Regions from separate parts of the Homo sapiens genome. Here regions 1, 3 and 4 are each linked to region 2. The links come from fine-mapping of genetic effects on gene expression. A gene starts in region 2. Each other region holds a variant in brackets. All regions are shown on one strand. Distances are from middle to middle.

Region 1 (5,000 bases), 62 kb before region 2:
ATTCCTCTTAAGCCAACAGACTGGCAAATGCCAAATAATCTCCTGTTAAGCTTCTCATTGGATAAGTAGCCATGCTGAAGACTGCCTCTGTAGTATCTCACTCTCAAAGTTCTTTACAAGATTATTGAAAACGCAGACCCTTGCTCTTGGAAACCATACAGATGGATAATCAAGCATTTCTTCTCTTTTTTCCCAGGATACACTTGAAATATGCTCCAAGGAGCAGGAGTTTAAAAGCATCCTTTTTTCTCTCTGCTACTTCCACGCCTGTGTTGCTGGGAGACTGAGGTTTGGCCCCCAGGGCTGGAGCCGAAGCTATCCTTTTAATCCTGGAGACCTCACCATTTGTGCCAGTGTCCTCTACAACTACTTAGAGGCAAACTCTAAAGTAAGTGCTAGTGGTCAAATAACCTCTTCCAAGGAGTTTACAAAGCTGTCAGTCTTTGGGCACTATCAAAATTGACCATAATTTCTCTTTTGAAGCTATTATTGAAATAGCTGACACTATGTATGTATCTTCTGCCAAGTGTGAAAATAAACCAGATCAAAGGTTTTCCAGCAGTGGATGTTTGCACTTCATGAGATAGGTCAAACCAGTTCTACATCAGCAGCTTAGTGTAAAAAAAAACAAAAAATGTCCTTCATTATGTTAACAAAAACAGTGGTTTACATGTGCGTATATGCCAGATTCATTAGGCAGGTAATGAAGCATTTGCACAAATGTAATTACATACAGCAATTCTGACAGTTCATAACACTGCATTAATAATCACTACAATTAGTTCTGATGATGGAAGCAATTTACAGCGCGTCACATGTATAAATAATGGTGCATTTCCTGCATATGTCATTATTATGTATTAAGGATGCCACCTTGTTGTGACTTTCTCAGTAATGTTCCCCTTGATTTGAAGTTAAAGGTAGATGAATGATTTTATTTCGTAGCTAAAATGTGTTTTACAGATGGGAATGGGAATGCCTCATCAAGAACATTTGTGTAAGTTCTCATAAACCCAATGATTGGATTTCAAAAAGCAAGAACCATTCATTCCTAAGGATTTTCTAGCTTAATCCTCACAAGGGAAACTTTTTTCATTAAGTTAAATCCGTTAAGACTAGGATACATGTGTCAAAACCAGTCAAGTGTTGTACTCTAGGCCACATTTTCTATAAAGCGTTTTTAAAATCACCCGTCTCTGTTTCTAAATGGAAACTATTGTTTTATGTTCCTTCAGTAATGATTGTTATAACTTTTTTGGTCAGCTTTCTCAGGCTTCGGTGGTGATTTGATTGCTATTAGAATAGATACCCTTGGTACCTAACAGGCATATTTTCCCAAGGAACAAATTTTAAATAAGTTGTATCCAAAATAAATGGTTTTAATATGGTATTTGATGTTCAGTGTTCCATATCTCTCATTTTTCAATTTATAGAATTAAGTAATTCTGAATACTTTGAGCATATTTTGACCATTCTATTAAATAGTAATATTTTTGTGTTGATTCCCAGCACATTTTGTCTAAACTATTGCACATAAAATTATAACAGTTCTAGGTAGAAAAAGGAATGGACCATTTAAGACTTTTATTCATGTCCTTCATAACTGTCCTGTGAGGCTGCAACCGGGAATAGAATCGTATTTCAGCTGAATCCTATACACCATTGAGGTGGAAATGAAGGGGAGGAAGAGGGAAGTGGACACACGTGTTTCTCTCCAGCTCTTACATCCTGAGTCTTGGAAACACCAGTTGACCAACCGAGTCACACTGTGTCCTGCTTTTTTTTCATCCTGGGGCTCCAGGATCAGCACAGCCTTAAGTTTTTAACACATTCTCATGTTTCTCAGTCATTTTCTGCACATCACAAGGCGACTTATCAGGATTTGGGAATTAAATTCCTATGAGCACATGTTTGGTTGTACAAAATGGCCTTTTCAAGAAAGTATATGTAAAAAACAAAGACCAGGATTGAGGGAAAGAGAATCAATTATTGAAAAGAACAGATCTGAGGCCAGGCGTGATGGCTCATGCCTATAATCCCAGCACTTTGGGAGGCCAAGTCGGGCGGATCGCTTGAGTCCAGAAGTTCGACACCAGCCTGGGTAACATGGGGAAACCCAGTCTCCATAAAAAATACAAAAGATTAGCTGGGCATGGTGATGCACGCCTGTAGTTCCAGCTATTTAGGAGACTGAGGTGAGAGGATCGCTTGAACCCTGGAAGTGGAGGTTGCAGTAAGCTGAGATCATACCACTGCACTCCAGCCTGAGCAACAGAGTAAAACTCTGTCTCAAAAACAAAAGAGGAAAGAACAAATCCTTAGCTAAATAATTATTGAAAAGAACAGATAATTATTTAAATAATTATTGAAAAGAACAGATCCCTAGTTAAATAAAAATTAAAAAGAGATACATATTGAATACTGAAATGTGTTGCAAGCATC[G/A]ATTAAATGTAAGCAGAAAAAGAACTAAAAGTCAGAAGCCTTTGTTTTCCATCCATTTCAGCTATTTGGAAGGTAGTCCATGCAGTGGTTGAGAGAGCATGTTGCGGTCTAGGCACCCCTCTCTTATTTTTCATTCACCTCAACCCAGCTTAAAAGACATATTTGAGGTTCATTTATTCAAATTCAAATAAACTTGTAGAAAAGTACATTGGCATAGTTGAAGCAATTTTACTTGTTCTGTTCTGTCACATCACGCAACAAGCGAAGGCTATAATTATAATTATGTTTTTACTTAAACTGTTGGGAGGCAGTATACTGCCCCCGAAGGTGTAAAGGTTCCTGTCTAGAAAGGCTTCATCACACACTGGCATGTTTTGCAAACCCAGAAGAAGCTAAAGTATAGCAAAGAGAGGCTTCAAACCCTGCTCAGCCAAATAAAGAGTAGGTACAGTGATTTCTTGAATAAAACATGGTATAGTCATTAGTTACAACCCTTAGAACAGTCATTAGGCCAGTCATGCCGTAAGACAAGCCCTCAGCTCCATCTGTGGCAAGGGGATTTGTTTGCCTGGACTTTTGGAAAATACTAGGATTCTAAATACACCCCAAATTCAAATTGTGTGGATGTTGCTTTCTTTTCCTGAATCAGATAATACAAGCTGATATAAAGCAGATAATAAAAACATGTCATACTTCAAAGGCCCTGTGAACCAACATCCTTTCACAATTTTTAGATGAGAATTTGAATGTATAAACTTTCCCTGCAAACATGTTCTAGGGATGACTCAGTTTCTTTTAAAATCTGCCTAAGGCTGGGCATGGCAGCTCAAGCCTGTAAATCCCAGTACTTTGAGAGGCCAAGGAGGAAGGATGGCTTGAGGCCAGGAATTCGAGACCAACCTGGACACCATAGTGAGACCCCCATCTCTACAAAATTTTTAAAAAATTAGCGAGATGTAGTGTCCTGTGCCTGTAGTCCTAGTTACTTGGGAGGCTGAGGCGAGAGGATTGCTGGAGCCCCAGAATTCAAGGTTGCAATGAGCTGTGATTGTGCCACTGCACTCCAGCTTAGGCAACAAAGCCAGACCTCATCTCTTAAAGAAAAAAAATCTTCATAAACAGCTCAATGTTAGTGAATTTTCACTGACTATATTAGAAGACACTGAAAATAATTCTCCCAAGAAATTCTCTGCAGAAACTTAGACAATTTCTGAAGCACCTTTAAATCCTCCTATTGACGGAGGCTTGGAGGGCATTGTGTTAGAGGGGCACGTGCTACTGGTTGGCTACTCTGAGGCAGACTCTGCACCCAGCAGTGAATATTTGTGTGGTTTTCTCCACAGGTCCCATGGGAAGATCTCCGTTATCTCTTTGGTGAGATCATGTATGGAGGCCACATCACAGATGACTGGGATCGCAAACTGTGTCGGGTGTATTTAGAAGAATTCATGAATCCATCTCTGGTAAGACATTTGTAAATTAATTTGTAAATAAATTTCACTGAGCAAAAAATTCTGGTAAGAATTTTATAAACTAATTATACTATGGGCAATTCTTAATGTTATTGAGGATGCTTGGCCTTTTGGGAAATTTCTTAGAAAAGCGGAATCTCGGGTTCCATCCCAGACCTACAGAATCAGAATCTGCATTTTCACAAGTCTTCCAGGTGATCTCTGTGTGTGCTAGAGAGTGCACCAGCGTGAGGCAGCCTCACATGCACTGACTCATCGGCTCTTTATAAAAACCCTATGAGGTATGCAGAGCTGACGCTGTTATTCCCTTTTCTAGACCGAGATGCTGAAACATGGGGATTTGCCCCAGGCCACTAGGTTGGCACAGGCAAGAGTTTTGTGCGTCTTTTGATAGAAGTCTTTTGATTTCTATTCCAGAGTTTATTTCACTAAAGTTTCTTTTCTGCCTGTCATGGAAGTCCTAGAAAATAGTCTACAGTTGGACCAGTATCAGTTACTCAATTATAATATGTGCTCAAGAAAAATGTGGTCAATATGTATGTGAGGTGATAGATTTGTTAATTAGCCTGATTTAACCATTCCACGATGTACACGTGTATCAAAACATCACACTGTGCCCCATAAATATATATAATTATTATTTGTCAATTTAAAATAAAATTAAATCTAACAAGATAGTAAAAAAAAAGATTATATATATCAACCAAGGGCAAGGTAAGAACCTTATTTGGATCTTGTTCCAAATGAACTATAAAAAAAAAAAAAAAAACACACACATTTATGACACAATGGGAAATTAACATTAACATATCATGGTAATATAGAATTCCCGTTAATATTTTATGTGTGATAATAAAGTAATATAGTTATGTTTTTTAAAAAGAGAAAAGATGCTCCAGGGTGAACCTGGAGGACATTACGTTAAATGAAATAAGTCAGACGCAGAAGGACAAATACATGTTCTCACACACATAAAGACTCTTAAAAAGCTGATCTCCTATAAATGGTGAATAGAACAGTGGTTACCAGAGACTGGGGAAGGGGAGAATGGGGAATGAATGGTCAACAGATACAAAGTTACCATCC
Region 2 (5,447 bases):
CTCTGAGGTTTTCGCCTGATTTTTGAGAATCCTGCTCTGCTATGGATGGGGTAGCCAGCAGAACACAGAACAACCAAGGAGCGTTTTAAATACAAGACTATTAGAGTGGCAAATCATTGTCCTTTCTGTGACCAGCTTCTGGGGCTCTGGAATTACATGTTAAACAACAGGATCAGATGGGAGCACTTTGCAGCTAAGAGACCAATACCAGAAAAATACCCCTTTACCCCTTCAACAGCGTGCTCCTGCCTATTTACAAGAACATTTAGCATCATTTCCTTCTCAAATGGGCCATCCTGTACTCTGGAGCTAGAACAGAGTACGAGGAGAACACTGACATTCAGTGCCTACCAGTTTCTCTCCTACGGAGCTGCAGCAAGCTGGAGCTCCCATGAGCTGCACTGTTGACAGCTCTTAGTCAGGGATCACACCCTTGCCTTTACGAGCTATTTCTGTCATTTTATATAAAAGCACAAAGACACAGTGGTCAGCACGACAAGACTACAGCCTGGGGGAAGCGTAATCACTGTCAGAGGACATCAAATCCAACACACTGGTGGGATGGCAGGAAAGCAGACTCGAAAGTAGTTCAGAGTAAATGAGTCTCCTTGTTTGCTTCTTACTCATAACATTAGGCCTAAGCTGCTTTGCTGAAACACTTAGCTCTGCGCTTTCCAAGCGATAGAAATTATACTTACTCCAATGTGTGAGATGAAAACCCACTGCACACTGAGCTGAGCGACATTTGATGTGCAGTAATGCCACTTCAGGTGGTTCATCACATTGCTTTATTCATAAGGCTGGGGGACAGGGTGGAACCACACGAATTTAACATCTTGCTGTGCCTGAAATGTTCATTAAGTGTTCTTATCCGCAGTCACCTGCCCACCCCACAGAACCACTCTCCACTAATTTAGAGACTATAATCTGTGCACATTTAAATTACGATGAACAGGAACATTTCCACTGGAAAAACCATCACACATCTTTGATTTGCACTGCCAATTAGGTCTTCAGAAAAGGAAAAAAAAAAAAACCCTGATCATCTTACATATAGTAATTTGCCTTAATTGGTGCATAATGGATCGGATATAATTTGTGGGTAACCCCTACATGATAAATAGTTTATTTAACATTTTAGAACTACCAAAAATTAGCCTCATTGTGTGGCAGTAAACGCTCACTTCCAACTACACATTCTGGGACTTCTGAGTTTCCTAAGCATGAATTATGAATATCAGTAGTGGAAGTGCAAAGAACTCTCCAGCTTAACAACAGGAGTGACACATTCCAGAAACATTTTCTGATTACATTCACAAGGAGCTCCGGAGTGATAAATTCCAGATACATTTTCTGACTAAACTCACAAGGAGCTCAAATCTCCATCCAGAGGGTTTGTTTTTTGTTTTTAGTCCTGTAGCAACAGAAACTCCTAGAAGGTTAGGACGCCAGCCGGAAGTGGTGGCTCACGCCTGTAATCCCAGCACTTTGGGAGGCCGAGGCAGGTGGATCACCTGAGGTCAGCAGTTCAAGACCAGACTGGACAACATTGTGAAACCCTGTCTCTACTAAAAAAAAAAAAAAAATACAAAAAATTAGACAGGCGTGGTGGCGGGCGCCTGTAATCCCAGCTACTCGGGACGCTGAGGCAGGAAAATTGCTTGAACCCGGGAGGCGAAGGTTGCAGTGAGCCGAGGTCGCGCCATTACACTCCACCCCGGACAAGAGCGAAACTCCGTCTCCAAAAAAAAAAAAAAAAAAAAAAGGATGCTAATACACGGTAAAAGCCAGTGGCAAAAAATAAAAAATCGAACCCTGTCTCATTCCGTAGGCTTTACTGTTTCCCTTGCTTTTAATAGTTTATCTCACAGGAGGCATTTTAAAAATATTCTCAGAAACATCAACAACAGATTTTTCTCAAGCGACCATTTTCAGGAAGGCTTCAGAAATTACTAAAAGGCCAAAGCTACCGTTAGTGGCTCAGTCTTTGCCGCCAGACTCGGGCAGGTGACAGCGGTTTGGGCTCGGGCGCCGGGCACTCTGCGCCTTCCAACGCTGGCGGCCCCGCCTCCCCTTCTCCCGGGCCAGGCACGCAGGTGGAGGAAAGTAAACACCAGTCGGAAGCAAGGTGGAAGCAGTGAGTCTCGCGACTCTCAATAAAACAAGTGGAAAAAAAAAAAAAAACAATCCTCGCACAAAGCATCTCCGTGCTCCCACAAGCAGAGGCGTGGCTGCTTGTTTCCCTTTTTAAAGGTTGTATTTTTAGTTCTTATGAAAAATGTTTTTATTGCTTACTTCTAAGTAAACATGTATCTCCATTACGATAACGTAGAGAAAAGCTCTTTTAAGAAGTAAAAAGAGAAAACTGAAGTCACGTTCACATTCCCACTACTCACTGAAACGTTTGGGGGAACTTACTCAAGTGTTTGCTAATGAGTTTTAAAGACGAGTTAGGCCCTTAACGCGTAATTGGGGTCGTGCTGTGCATATGATTTGGGATCTTGCAGCTTGTTTAACTCGGCCCAATGACGTTACCATTTCCCCCAAATGGTTACTAATTCCTTGAAAACGTTTACAAAAGTTCTAGAATAAACACTAAAGTTATTATTTTTAAACTCCATTATCCAAGTTGGACTGGTCTGGCGATCGACTGTTAAAAAAAAAAAATTACAACTTTCTTAAGCTTCCTGATCTCTGTGCCAATTCCCGGAGAAAGTGTGGGGAGTGCACAAAAAAAGCCCCTCCCCCGTCTCACGAGGGCTGCAAACGCAGGCGCTGCGCCCCGCTAGCTCCCCGCCTGCACCCCCGGCGGCCACCCGAGACTGAGCAGAGCGCCAGGCTGAGCGCGGTTGTGTGCTGGGGCGACCGGCCTCTGTGGTCCGCGTAGCACAAACGTGACCCACTGCGCACACCTGCAGGGCGCGCCCACTCCGGCACTCAACCGGCTGGGCGCGCCAGATCCCCAGTGCCGCAGCCAAGGGCCACGTTTCCAGCCCAAGGCCAGCAGGACCGGGTGGCAAAGGGAAGTCAAACTGTGGGTGCGTCCGGACGGCGGCGGGCGGCCGGACCCTCACCTGGTAGCGAGTCGCCAACTCCATTCTTCCTAACCGGGCTCCAGTCTCCTCCCAGCACGCGGCCACGGGAGCCCGGACTCACCACGGCCCGGCGCACCAAGAACGCCCCGCGCCCGAGCAGCTAGCGCGCTCCGCCCGGAGCACAGGCGGGCCCCGGGAGGGGCGCACTTGACGCCCTGGACAGGGGGAGCGCGTTGCGCTGCCCCCTCGGTGCCGCCTCACTGGGCCTCGTGGCTCCGATCACGTTCCAACTTCGCGGCCACTGACCTTGTCTTCGCAGGCGGCGCGAGAGGGGGCTGCAGTTGGGCGCGGCAAGAGCAATTACCAGTGTTAGGGCGCCGGGCTCCCCCCTGCAGCAGAGGGAGGGAGTGGAGCCGTCCGGCGGGGTTTAGCGCGGGAGAAATGAGGGGGCTGTCCCGGCGCAGCCTCCAGCTGGCACGCGCGCTGGATACTTGGCAGGGTTTATTCCAGGTCATGCCCTGGGGCGCGAGCTTCTGCTGCAACCCCTGTCTCTGATCCAGGCAAATATTGTAGGGCGGCTTTGGGGCTTGTTTTGTTTTGTTGTTGTAACGGGGCAGGGTTCTCTTTGGGAAGATTCTGTCTCCCAAAACATTTGCTACAGGGTTCACTTTGCAGAACAGGCAACCCAGGTTTCTTTACCAAGGCCCAGGTGGACAGATGCAAACCCGCCTGAAACTTTAGACGGCCATTACACAGTAGGCCTCCACACCCACCAGACAAAGAGTTTGTAGAGGTCAGGAATGCTGACTAATTTAACAGAATTGACCCCGGCATCTACTAAGCATCAGGCACTGGGCTAGTCCTAGGAACAGAAGGGTGAACAAAAACAGGCCCCTGCTCTGTTGGAGTTTACAGCCTGAGAGCCAGTTACCAACCTAATTGCATTATTCTAAATAAATACAATAATGATGCAAATAAGTGTAATAACGATGTAAATTTTATAAATTAGATTTATAATTAATATTAATTTGATACCACTATCAATGACAAATGTAATGATGATGCAAATAAATGTAAATTTGGAGCGATGATGCCATGAGAAAAAAGGCAAGTGGTATTAATGGTGGTGTGAAATAGGAAGACAATCTGATAGAGGTCAGGGAATACTTCTTAGAGTTCAGATATGAAGAGTGAGGAATTAAGTTTGTGGAAATTGTGGGAGAGTTGAAGTAGAGAGTGGGGAGAATGGTAAATGAAGTTGTCCTGAAATCACAGCAGGTTTGCTGGACAGTGTTGCACACCTATTTAGAACCGTGGTCATAGGTTTACAGTAGAGCATCCTGTACGCATAGGACCTTCTGCAGCCCCTCTCAGCTGCTTAGGATCTGACGTTCATCTTTTCTTTATTGAACGAGTGAATGAAATTTGCCAAACATTTACTCAAGCTTGAAGAGAAAACATGGAAAAGGTTTCCTTCCTTCCTTTGGTTAGTTCAGCAAACAACATGTGTTATGTGCTTTCATGTTCCAGCCCTCAGTGTTCTCACTTCCTGGTGGTAGTAAAACCAATACAACATTGTGTGACTTAAAATGTTTTGTTTTTATTGGATAATGTTATTTATTCATTATGGCCACTTCATTTTTATTATGCTTTAGAGTTTTCCTTCACATGCAGTATCTCCTTGAATCCTCTCAATATCCTTCCAGATCCTTATTGTCCACATTTTTAAAATAAGGAAACAGAATCTAAGAAAATACATTAAGAGATCCCTGCCACCCTGCCACTAAGTGACAGCAGCAGACTGCCAAACTGAAAACCATTCCTTATGCCTCCAGATCCAACATTCTTTCCATTTTTCTGTATTTTTTCCCTTTGGCTGCCAGGAAGCTTAGAGTGAAAATTAATTCAATCAGAGCTCTTCTTCCTCTTTTTTTTTTTTTAGATAGTTGCTTCCTCATGAACTGCTGATCTTGTTTGCACTTCTTTTCATTGTAGGTTAAATCAAATCAATTTTGGAAAAGGGAGCACAAATTTGAAGCAGGTCAGATTTTGCAAAACACTTGAAGCAGCCTAGACTAGCTACTTCTGTATCAGGAAACCTGTAAGCTGTTGAACCTTTCTGTTTAGAAATTTGCCATAACTAACCCTAAGTCTTCAGATGACAACCCCTAAATTTTCTTCCTGTGCTTAGCAAAGCCTGTACACGTTTGATGGTATTTAGTAATTGATTATATAGTGGTGTGTTTTGTTTTGTTTTGTTTTGTTTTGTTTTGGTCAGGCTTTGGGAAAATCTCTAAGGAACCAGAGGATTTAAACATGGCACTGCAGTAATACTTTCTAATAATTATTACTGATAGGGTTCACGGGATGTGAGCACTGGGTTTCATCATGGCACTGCAAGAATGAGTGTCC
Region 3 (5,000 bases), 89 kb before region 2:
GACCTCCAAAAAATCAACCCCCTCTACCAATTCTCTTTGAAGGTAATGCTGAATGAGCTAAGAAATATGGGAAACTTTAGGAGTTCAATTTGTTTCTGGAACATTGGAATTTATTTTATTATTGATAATAATAATAACTATTATTACTATTATTGAGACAGAGTCTCACTCTGTAGCCCAGGCTGGAGTGCAGTGGCGTGATCATTGCAACCTCTGCCTCCCATATTCAAGCAATTCTCATGCCTCAGTCACCTGAGTAGCTGGGACTACAGGAGTGCGCCACCACACCTGGCTAATTTTTGTATTTTTAGTAGAGACAGGGTTTTGCCACATTGCCCAGGCTGGTCTCGAACTCCTGACCTCAAATGATCTCCCCTCCTTGGCCTCCCAGAGTGCTGAGAGTACAGGCGTGAACCACCGCGCACAGCCAGAATGTATTTTTAAGCCATCGGTGTACCCAGTAAGGAGTCATGAGGATCTGGTTAACAAAATAACAAAAGCAAAATTCTTATTCTCAGGAATTTTCATTTATAATTTTCAGTAAGGCTTTGAGGTAATTAAACTGTGCATACGGTATCATATTATATTGGTGTATTGCTCCTGAGCAGTCTCTTAATTTTTTTTTTTTTTTTTTTTGGGATGGAGTCTCCCTCTGTCGCCCACGCTGGAGTGCAGTGGCGCGATCTTGGCTCACTGCAAGCTCCACCTTCCGGGTTCACTCCATTCTCCTGCCTCAGCCTCCTGAGTAGCTGGGACTACAGGTGTCCGCCACCACACCTGGCTAATTTTTTGTATTTTTAGAAGGGATGGGGTTTCACCGTGTTAGCCAGAATGATCTCTATCTCCTGACCTCGTGATCTGCCCGCCTCAGCCTCCCAAAGTGTTGGGATTACAGGCGTGAGCCACCGCACCTGGCCAGCAGACTCTTTAAGGGAATTTTCCTTGAGGCTCCTATTTTGTCTTTGTGAAAATATGTCTTGGAAAGAGAATGCTCATATTTCTTTGCTAAAGAAAGAAAAATAATAAGAACAACTATTTATTGAGTCACTATTACATGCAAGGCATTTTTATACTTTGGCTCATTCTTTATCCCTATTACATCTCAATAAAGAATATAATATCCCCATTTAAAAAATAAGGATGACATTTTCAAACTTTAAATAAATTGCCCAAGAATTTACATTTGTTATTGTAAGAGCCAGCATTTCAACCTGTAACTGTTTCCAAAGCCCACGCTCCATACCTTGTACCATGCTGCTGCCTGCTGGGCAGTGCTCATTCATTCTGTTCATCTGTTCATCCGTTTTTAGACAAATGTTTATTATGATCAATCACGTCAGATGCTTGTCACTTGAGTGTATAGTTTTGGACAAAACATAAGGGTGGAGGTATATCTATATGTAGATACATATAGATATATATGTACACATAGATATAGTTCCACCTTTATGATCATACATTTGTTTATAAAAGTAGAAAGTATTGTAAGACAGAATGATAGAGGTGGAGAGGCTGCTTTTACTGGGGGCTCAGGGAAGGCCTCCCAGAGGAAGTAACGTTTATTTCTGAAGGATAAGTAGGACTTAGCTATGTAAAGAGTGTTTGGAGAAAACAGGAATGTGTGAGATGAAAGAATTCAGGGATTCCAGGTAGTGAGTGAATTTCTGTGGCTGCAGGGTAATGAGCAAGGGGAAAGGTAGCAAGAAATGAATCTAGAGAGGTGGGAAAGACTGAATCACGCAGAGTTTTGTAGACCACTGTGTGTGGAATTTGGGGATTATAATCTGTGTGCAACAAGAAGCCATTGGAAGATTTCAAGCAGATAACTGATGTGATGACAAAAGACTCAGAGTTACGTGAACAGACCTGAGATATGATTTGAAGCTGGAATCATTGGCTCCTGGAGATGGACTGGTTATGGGCAATAATAAAGAGGAAAGGATCAAGCATAACTAGCAGGTTTCCTAACAGTACAGAACTAGTATGCAAAACTTCTAACAAGCACAGTGTGGTTGGAGTTTGAAAGTAACCATGTGTGAGGAGAAGAGTAAAACTAAATCATCAGTGTCAGCCCAGTATTGCCCAAATTCCAAAACTACACTAAGGCATTACAATAAAAGAAAAATACTGGGCAGTCCCCCCTTGTAAACATTGTTGGTAAACTCCTCCAGAAAATGTTGGCAAATTGAATCCAACCATATATAAAAAGCACAATGTATCATGACCAAGTGGAATGTATGCCAAGAATCAAATTGGTTTAACATTCAAAAATCACGAAGTGTAATTAATCAGTTAACAGAATAAAAGAAAAAAAAGCTCATATGGTCATTTCAGTTGATGCAAAGAACTTGAAAAATTTCAACAAATGAGTTAAAAAAAAAACCAACCAACTCTCAACTAATGAATAGATGGTAACTTCTCAACATGATAAAATGCATCTAGAAAAAATCTACACCAACATTATACTTAATGTTGAAAATGGAATGCTTTTCGCTAAAATCAGGAACAAGACAAGGATATCTTTCTCTCAGCACATCTATTCAGCGCTGCACTGGAAGTTATAGTCGGTACAGTAAGACAATAGAAGGCAAGAGATTTAAAAGAAGAAGAAAAACT[G/C]TGTTTTTTCACAGATGACCTGATTATGTATATAGAAAATCCCAAGAAACTCACCAAAACCCTGCCAGGACTAAGAAGTGAATTTTTAGCAAGGTTGCAGGATATAAGGTTGATATACAATGTACCTTGTATTTCTATACATGAGAAACAAGTGGAAAATAAAATCAGTGTCTTAGCACTATTTACAGTGGCTTCCAAAGCCGTGAAGCTTTTTAGGAATAATTTTAATAAAATATATGCAAGGTTTGTATTCTAAAAACTCCAAAATATTGTTGAGAAAAATTAAAGAAGTCCTAACTAAATAGATACACCATGTTCATCAGTTGGAATGCTCAATATTGTTAAGATGTCAGTTCGCTCCAAACTGATTTATAGATTCAATTCAGTCCCAATCAAAACACCAGAAGACATTTCCTTTTTCCTTTTGGTAGAAATTGGCAAGCTTATCCTGAAAATTTGTGTGAAAATTCAAAGGACTTAAAATAGCTAAACAATTTTGAAAAAGAAAAAAAAAAACAGGGTTGGAAGACTTACAATTTCTGATTTTAAGACTTAAATCTACACGAATCAAGATGTTGTGGTACTGGCCTGAAGAAAAATGCATAGATCTGTGGAACAGATTGGAGAATCCCGAGGTACACCCACAAATGCATGGTCAATTGATTTTCAGTAGGGGTGCCAAGACAATTCAATGAGGAAAGGACAGTTTTTACAACAAATGGTGCTGGAGCAATTGGATATCCACATGACATAAAATAAACCTCAAACTATTATACTATATAAAAAAATTCAAAATGAATTTATTAAGCTATACATTTTCTAGGAGAAAAATAAGAGAGGGCTTTGGGTTAGGCAAAGATTTCTTAGGACACAATAGAAAATAAAAACTTAATAAATTGAACCTTATCAAGCTTAAAAGTTTATGGTTTTCAAAAGATATGAAGATGAAAAGGTAGGCCACAGACAAGCAAAGACAATATTCTCAATACATATATATAAAACAAAGAATTTGTATCAGGATATAAAAAGAACTTGTACAACTCAGTAATAAGAGTTGAACAGACATGTAATAACACATGTGAATTATCCACAAGCACATTAAAAATGCTCATCAGGCATCAGAAAAATGCAAAATAAAAGCAGAATGAGGTCTTATTCTATGTCCCACAGAATGGCTAAAGTTTCAGAAGACTCTTAATAGCAAGTGTAGCACAGATATGGTACTACAGCTCTCTCACATTGCTGGAAGGAATGCAATAAACCATTTTGGAAAACAGTTTGGCAGTTTCTTGTAAAGATAAATATACAGTTAGAAAATATGATCTCACACTTTTACTCCAGGCATTTACCTAAGATAAATAAAAATGTATGCCTGCAAAAAGCTTAACAAATGTTCATAGATGCTTTATTCATAAAAGCCAAAGTCTAAAAACAATCCAAAGGACTGACACATTAATAGTCATGCAGATTTTGCATGTTCCCACAGTGGGCTATTACTCAAAACATAAAGGTATGAATTGTTGGTACACACAACAACGTGGATATGTCACCAAACGATTATGTTGAAAAGAAGCAGCCAGATACCGAGGAGTATATACCATATGATGCTATTTATGTGAAATTATAGAAAAGGCAAAATTATTCTACAGTGACAGAGGCAGGTCAGTAATTGACTGGGGCTGGCGATGGTGGTGGGAATAGGCTGTAAATAGGCACATGAGAACTTTTTCTGGTAATGTAAGTAGAAAGGTTCTTTATCTTGATTGCTACGGTTATTGTTAGAATATATCTATTTGTCAAGACTCATCAAACTGTGCATATAATAGGCACATTTTATAGTATGTAAACGAAAAACTGATTTTAAGAAAGTGTAAATATCAGGTTAGTACAGATTGAGCCTCCTAATCCAAAAACCAGAATGCTCCAAAATCTGAAACTTTTTGAATGCTGACAAGATGCCCCAAGTGGAAAATTCTACACCTGACCTCATGCACTTTATGCACAAAATTGTTTAAAATATTGTATAAAATTAACTTCAGGCTATGTGTATAAGGTGTCTATGAAACATACATGAATTTTTTTTTTCATTTTGTTTTGTTTTTGAGATGGAGTCTCACTCTGTCACCCAGACTGGAATGTAGTGGTGCAATCTCGGCTCACTGCAATCTCCACCTCCCAGGTTGAAGCGATTCTCCTGTCCCAGCCCCTCAAGTAACTGGGACTACAGGCACCCACCACCATGCCTGGCTAAATTTTGTATTTTTGGTAGAGATGGGGTTTCACCATGTTGGCCAGGCTGGTCTCAAACTCCTGAACTCAGGTGATCCACCTGCCTCAGCCTCCCAAAGTGCTGGGATTACAGGCATGAGCCACAAGCCCAACCT
Region 4 (5,368 bases), 45 kb before region 2:
AGTTTGGCCAGTTATTAAAATATAATAACACCCTCAGTTGGAGGCCTTTGTAGCCATCACTCTCCTCTTGTCAAATGCTGCCGTGGAGATGTCAAAAGCTAGCATACTTCTTTTCCCTTTATAAATGGCTTCATGTTTTCCCCTGGCCATCCAGGGATTCTTCATTGTTCATATTATTCTTTATATTTTAGTATTGATTACTCTCTACCAAATTTTCTTGGAACATGATGTGCCCTTGATTGTATAGATTCAAAGGTATAATTTAGGAAAACTCAAATTTTCTAGAATTACACTTTTTTTTTGAGAGATTCTCATTCTGTTGCCTAGGCTGGAGTGCAGTGACGTGATCGCAGCTCACTGCAACCTCTGCCTCTTGGGTTCAACCGATTCTCCTGCCTTCAGCCTCCCTAGTAGCTGGGATTACAGGCATGTGCCACCATGCCCGGCCAACTTTGTTATTTTTAGTAGGGATGGGGTTTCACCATGTTGGCCAGGCTGGTCTCGAACACCTGACCTCAAGTGATCCACCTGCCTCGGCCTCCCAAAGTGCTGGGATTACAGATGTGAGCCACCACGTCTGGCCTCATTTCAGCTTTCATTTTATTGCTTTCACTCTAACCCTTTACCTCTTTATTTCCATTTGTTTTTATTATTCTCCCTTACGCTGTTTCACTTTTGCTTTCATTTCTATAATTTTATTTTCTACTTCTTATTTGGGGTCTTCAAACTTAATTTCCTTACTATTTCCTACCTGATCCCTTCTAAGTCATGATCTTGTTTATATCAACAATCACTTGTTTTAGTTGTTACAAATTGTCTGCAGTGTTTATCCTCATGATGGCAACATTTTGAGAGAAATGTCTTCCTGCCTTTGCTTTTCTCATTCGCCTTTTTCCTTTGTGTGGTGCCTATGCTGTTTCTTCTTCTTATCGTCGAGTATGCTTTTTCGGATCCAGCTATCTGGAAGAACTTAATATAGGTCCGGGCACAGAGATTTTCCTTGTGGTGACGTAAGTTTGACCGTGAGCATTCTGAGCCTTTTCTTCTTCACGGCCCAGAGTCAGGCAAGTATCTCAGGCAGACATGTTCTGCCATGTGGTTTGTCAGGGTGTTTCCTCATTCACCCCCACTTCCTTTGCATATCTGAAGCAGACAAGGTCCTAGAAAACTTCAGTGCCAGCCTTTCCTTCTAGAGAACTCTGGCTTTTACACTGAGGCTATGCTCTCTACTCCATTCTCCTGGTCCCCTTTAAGCAGCCTCTGAAACTTACAATTCAAGGTTTCACTTCTCTCTTAATTTTATCGAAGAGGTTCATCTGTCCCTAGCCTCTGTGAGCCAGCTTCCTTATAGGTCAACTGCAAATACTTCCTACCTTGCCCAATTGTGAGGAGCCGAGAAGAGAACATGTACGTAACAGCAGCGTTTCTCAACCCACCGGCGTGCCATTCCTGGCTGACTTGTTTTCCTAATTAACCTTTTTCCTCCCCACTTTCAGGCAGCTACTGCACGTGCTTAGACTGCCGTCACGTGCTCCACTGCCTCCGCACATGCTGTTCCCTCTGCTTATCAATCAGATTTCCCGGCAACTCTGGTCTTGTAACCACCATCACAGCCTTGCCATCCCTGGTCCTCAGACACCCTGTCCATACCTCCAAGTTGGCGCTTGTCAGTCCAAGTCATAGGGTGATGACCTTTGTATAGTCACCACATAGCATGAAGAGGCTCTAATAAAAGCTGTTGCATAAATGGAAATGAGTTTTCCACATTCCTCAGTGTATCTTGCTCTAATGTAAACGCTACAGTCATCAAGTCTCCAATGGGAAACAAACTAGCCCTTTAAAGGGACAGTGCCCTGCAAATTGTCAGGGAAGGATTTTACCAGCTAGCAGTGGTATACTTCTCCTCCACCACCACCCTGCCCTAACCGCCCACAACAGAACATACTGGAAAATGGCTATTTTACTGAACAGCAAGTTTTTCTTCCTCCCTCCCATAAACCAGGTTCAATGACCTCCTCCTGCGATGCCGAGAACTCGATACTTGGACACAAGACCTTACCCTTCCGGCTGTCGTGTGGCT[C/A]TCCGGCTTCTTCAACCCTCAGTCCTTCTTAACTGGTAAGGGCTGACGCAGTGCAGCCCCTGATGCACACAGGACCACAGCCTAACCAGAAGCCCTGCTTTGTTTACCTATGATGGCGTCTCCTTGCCCTGCTCACCAATCCTCAAGCAGCAGCCATTATAGAAAGGACCAGCAGCTATAGAGGAAACAGAGTCCTGGGCAGGCGAGTAGCAGCAGGAGGGAAAGGACCTCCTATAGCAGCAAGAGTAGCCAAGTGAGGTGGGGCACGGTGTGCTCTTATTAAACATTTTCTGGAAAGGGCCACATAGCTTCTCTGCTACTGTAGTGCGAAAACCACAGACAATCCACAAATGGCTGTGACTATTCCAATAAAACTATCTACAGAAACAGCGAGCTTGTCCTGCAGGCCTTAGTTGGCCAACCCCCTGCTCCAGCGCAGCCATGTGCCAATGCCCAAGAACCTAAAACACCCTATGGGACTAAAGGATGCCTCAATTTACTGGTAGCTCCCGGGAACCTTACATGCAACACTTTTATCCTATTCAATTTTTGTTATATTTCCAAAGCAATCATGCAGACGATGGCTCGAAAAAATGAGTGGCCCCTGGATAAAACGCGCTTGACTGCTGATGTTACCAAAAAAACAAAGGAAGATTATGGACACCCGCCAAGGGAAGGTGCATACCTCCACGGACTCTTCATGGAGGGTAAGACACCCCAAGGGGTAAGTGGGGAACCTTTTCTTACTCAGGTTCAGATCAGTGTTTGTCCTCTGCTTACTGTTTCTCAGCATCTCCTCACTCACACAGTAACCTTATGCTAGTCATTATCTCATTTCTTCCTCTTAAATAATTTAAGTGCTGGGATGTGTGTCCACTGTGAACCAAACTGTAATATTTGGGGTGATGGCTATCACTTAAATTTTGCACATATATCTGGATGTTAATGCCACTGAATAACATCATTAGACTTAGACTGAATTTACATTCTTTTTGCTTTTCAATATAATCATTTCAAAATCTTTCTTCTATTGTTTAAAAACTGTCAGTAAATTTGCTCTAATGTTTTACTACAAGACTTCTCCAAGCCTGGAAGATGCTACTGCGTAGGGTGAATCTCTAAGAGGGGGTTAGACTATGCAATATTTTCCAAATTTATCTGGCCATGCATTTATTCCACAGGACACTTAGTCCCTACCAAGATGTTCCTTTTTCAGTTTAAAGCAAGTGCCACAAGTTCTGGTGTAAAAGAATAAGGTGCGACGGGGAGGAAATGTGGTGAACTGGAGATTTTTAAAGGGAGGGCAAACTAGTTCAGTGTATGTGAATTCTCTTAGAATCCCATTTCATAAAATCAGCTTACTTCCACAGGAAAGTTTAACCACTACGCATGGAAGCAAAGCGGTGCCTCCGCTGCAGGCAGGGTAACCTACCTTTCAAAGCTCAGTCCGGCCAGCTCAGTAAAAATACCACTGACAAGCAAAAATATGACAAAACCAGAATGTTGAATGTTTATTGCATCAAACAACTTACTTGATCATTATCATTAGTAGCAAGCTGCCACACAATTGCAACCGCTGTGTTTTTGCCATAGGCGCCCGCTGGGACACCCAAGCAGGAACCATTGTTGAAGCCCGTCTCAAGGAGCTGGCATGCCCTATGCCGGTCATCTTTGCAAAAGCCACCCCCGTGGACAGACAAGAAACCAAACAGACCTACGAGTGCCCTGTGTATAGAACCAAACTGAGAGGCCCCAGCTACATCTGGACCTTCAGGCTGAAGAGCGAAGAGAAGACTGCAAAATGGGTTCTGGCTGGAGTGGCTCTGCTTCTAGAAGCGTAAGGTAACACTGGCATTCCTCTAGCCTCTGCTGGAGTGCAGTGAGGATTTTCTAGCATGTTGCTGCACTGTTCCCATGCACATTATTCTAACTTTTTAGTAACTCACACGTGCATTCTTTTTTCAACGCTATCCTTAGAGTGAAAGTCAGAAAAAAATACTAGAAACTAACTCAGGGCTGAGCGTGGTGGCACACGACTGTAATCCCAGTTACTCAGGAGGTAGGAGAATCACTTGAACCTAGGAGGCAAAGGTTGCAGTGAGCCGAGGTTGCACCACTGCACTCCCTCCTGGGCAACAGAACAAGACTCCATCTCAAAAAAAAAAAAGTACATCATAAAAGTACATCATATGTGAACATGCAAAAGCAATGCAGCCGGAAAGAACGGAGATTTTAATTTTTAACAAACAACAAATTAAATTATTAGCCCTTAAACTCTTTCAAAATATAAAAGCAGCAGGCCCCAGGTGAGTCCTGAAGGAAGAGGCTAGCACTCTGTAAGGCCTCCAGTGTCCAGTGTCTACAATGTTGATGGTCCCCTTTTGTTCAGTCAAGTTTTAATAAAAATAAAACTGTTCTACAGTTAATTGCACTTTGTTCAGTGTAAATTTCCAATGACCAAGAGCAGGTTAAACGATGTGTGTGGTCTATTAAACTGTGGTCACTCGTGCTAAGGCACACTTGGCCTGGAGTGAGTTACTGTTTGGGAAGCCAAAGATAGATAGATCAAGTGCAGGAGCTGATCATACAATGTTTTCTCTCTAACTTACTTACCTGAACTTTAACCCCACCCCATTTAAACTGTGCTTTTTAATAACTGGCAGATATTTTTAACAAAGTTCAGCATACAGACAGGTCTGTGCATACATCTATATAGATTCCTCTGCTCTGCTGTCTTCCTGAGAAATCTTTGTAAGCATATAAACAATCTTTAACAAAAAATAGTAATTTCTACAAAGAATTTCTGTATAAAAACACAACTGTAAAAAAATCTTTCTTAGGCACCAATGGTATGCATGTCTTGTTGGAGTACTCTATGGTGAGGTGGCTGGTTCTGTTTGTTTTCCTCTTAATTGTCTTCTACCAGCTCCTTTTGTAAGCTGGGAAAAAGATGAGAAGTATTTGGTAAAGTAGTACAAATACACAAATGGCATTCTAGGCTTGAGAGATTCCACAATCATCTAAGAGTACAAAGCCAGAACCCAGATCTCCTGACACTCGAAATCCTGACAATTTATGCATCAATATCCGTATACCCTCTGGTGTAGTACGCCCCAAGCATGACTTGCCTCACTCCCGCATTCCAGAACCACGATTCAGAGTTTATTAATTACATAAATGAAACTTGTAACTCACATTCTGTCCTCTTGCCCTGAACTCTCTCTCTGCACTAGGATTATGGCTGCCTCTTCATAATCTGTGTCTTTCCCCTCAGCCTGCCTTGTTTGT

Evidence for each region.
Region 1: its variant is fine-mapped to the expression of CDCA7L in whole blood (TOPMed, PIP above 0.99).
Region 3: its variant is fine-mapped to the expression of CDCA7L in whole blood (TOPMed, PIP 0.98).
Region 4: its variant is fine-mapped to the expression of CDCA7L in whole blood (INTERVAL, PIP above 0.99).

The regions. Positions count from the first base shown.
Region 1 is chr7:21,880,506-21,885,505 of GRCh38, forward strand. It overlaps DNAH11 (dynein axonemal heavy chain 11), which reads left to right. Exons shown (of 82, transcript NM_001277115.2): 75 at 197-388; 76 at 3,786-3,905. Among named protein-coding and RNA genes, the nearest start is that of CDCA7L, 63 kb to the right of the region's middle. The variant G/A (reference allele first, on the strand shown) is at 2,443.
Region 2 is chr7:21,942,707-21,948,153 of GRCh38, forward strand. It overlaps CDCA7L (cell division cycle associated 7 like), which reads right to left and starts at 3,193. Exons shown (of 10, transcript NM_018719.5): 1 at 3,075-3,193. The coding sequence starts at 3,098. RefSeq lists a silencer at 2,812-2,861 and enhancers at 3,002-3,151, 3,147-3,857, 3,542-3,791.
Region 3 is chr7:21,854,414-21,859,413 of GRCh38, forward strand. DNAH11 (dynein axonemal heavy chain 11) reads left to right here. Exons shown (of 82, transcript NM_001277115.2): 68 at 1-42. Among named protein-coding and RNA genes, the nearest start is that of CDCA7L, 89 kb to the right of the region's middle. The variant G/C (reference allele first, on the strand shown) is at 2,617.
Region 4 is chr7:21,897,334-21,902,701 of GRCh38, forward strand. It overlaps DNAH11 (dynein axonemal heavy chain 11), which reads left to right. Exons shown (of 82, transcript NM_001277115.2): 80 at 2,003-2,115; 81 at 2,647-2,787; 82 at 3,674-4,506. The coding sequence ends at 3,921. CDCA7L (cell division cycle associated 7 like) reads right to left here. Exons shown (of 10, transcript NM_018719.5): 10 at 3,566-5,019. The coding sequence ends at 4,989. Among named protein-coding and RNA genes, the nearest start is that of CDCA7L, 46 kb to the right of the region's middle. RefSeq lists enhancers at 829-2,028, 980-1,039. The variant C/A (reference allele first, on the strand shown) is at 2,081.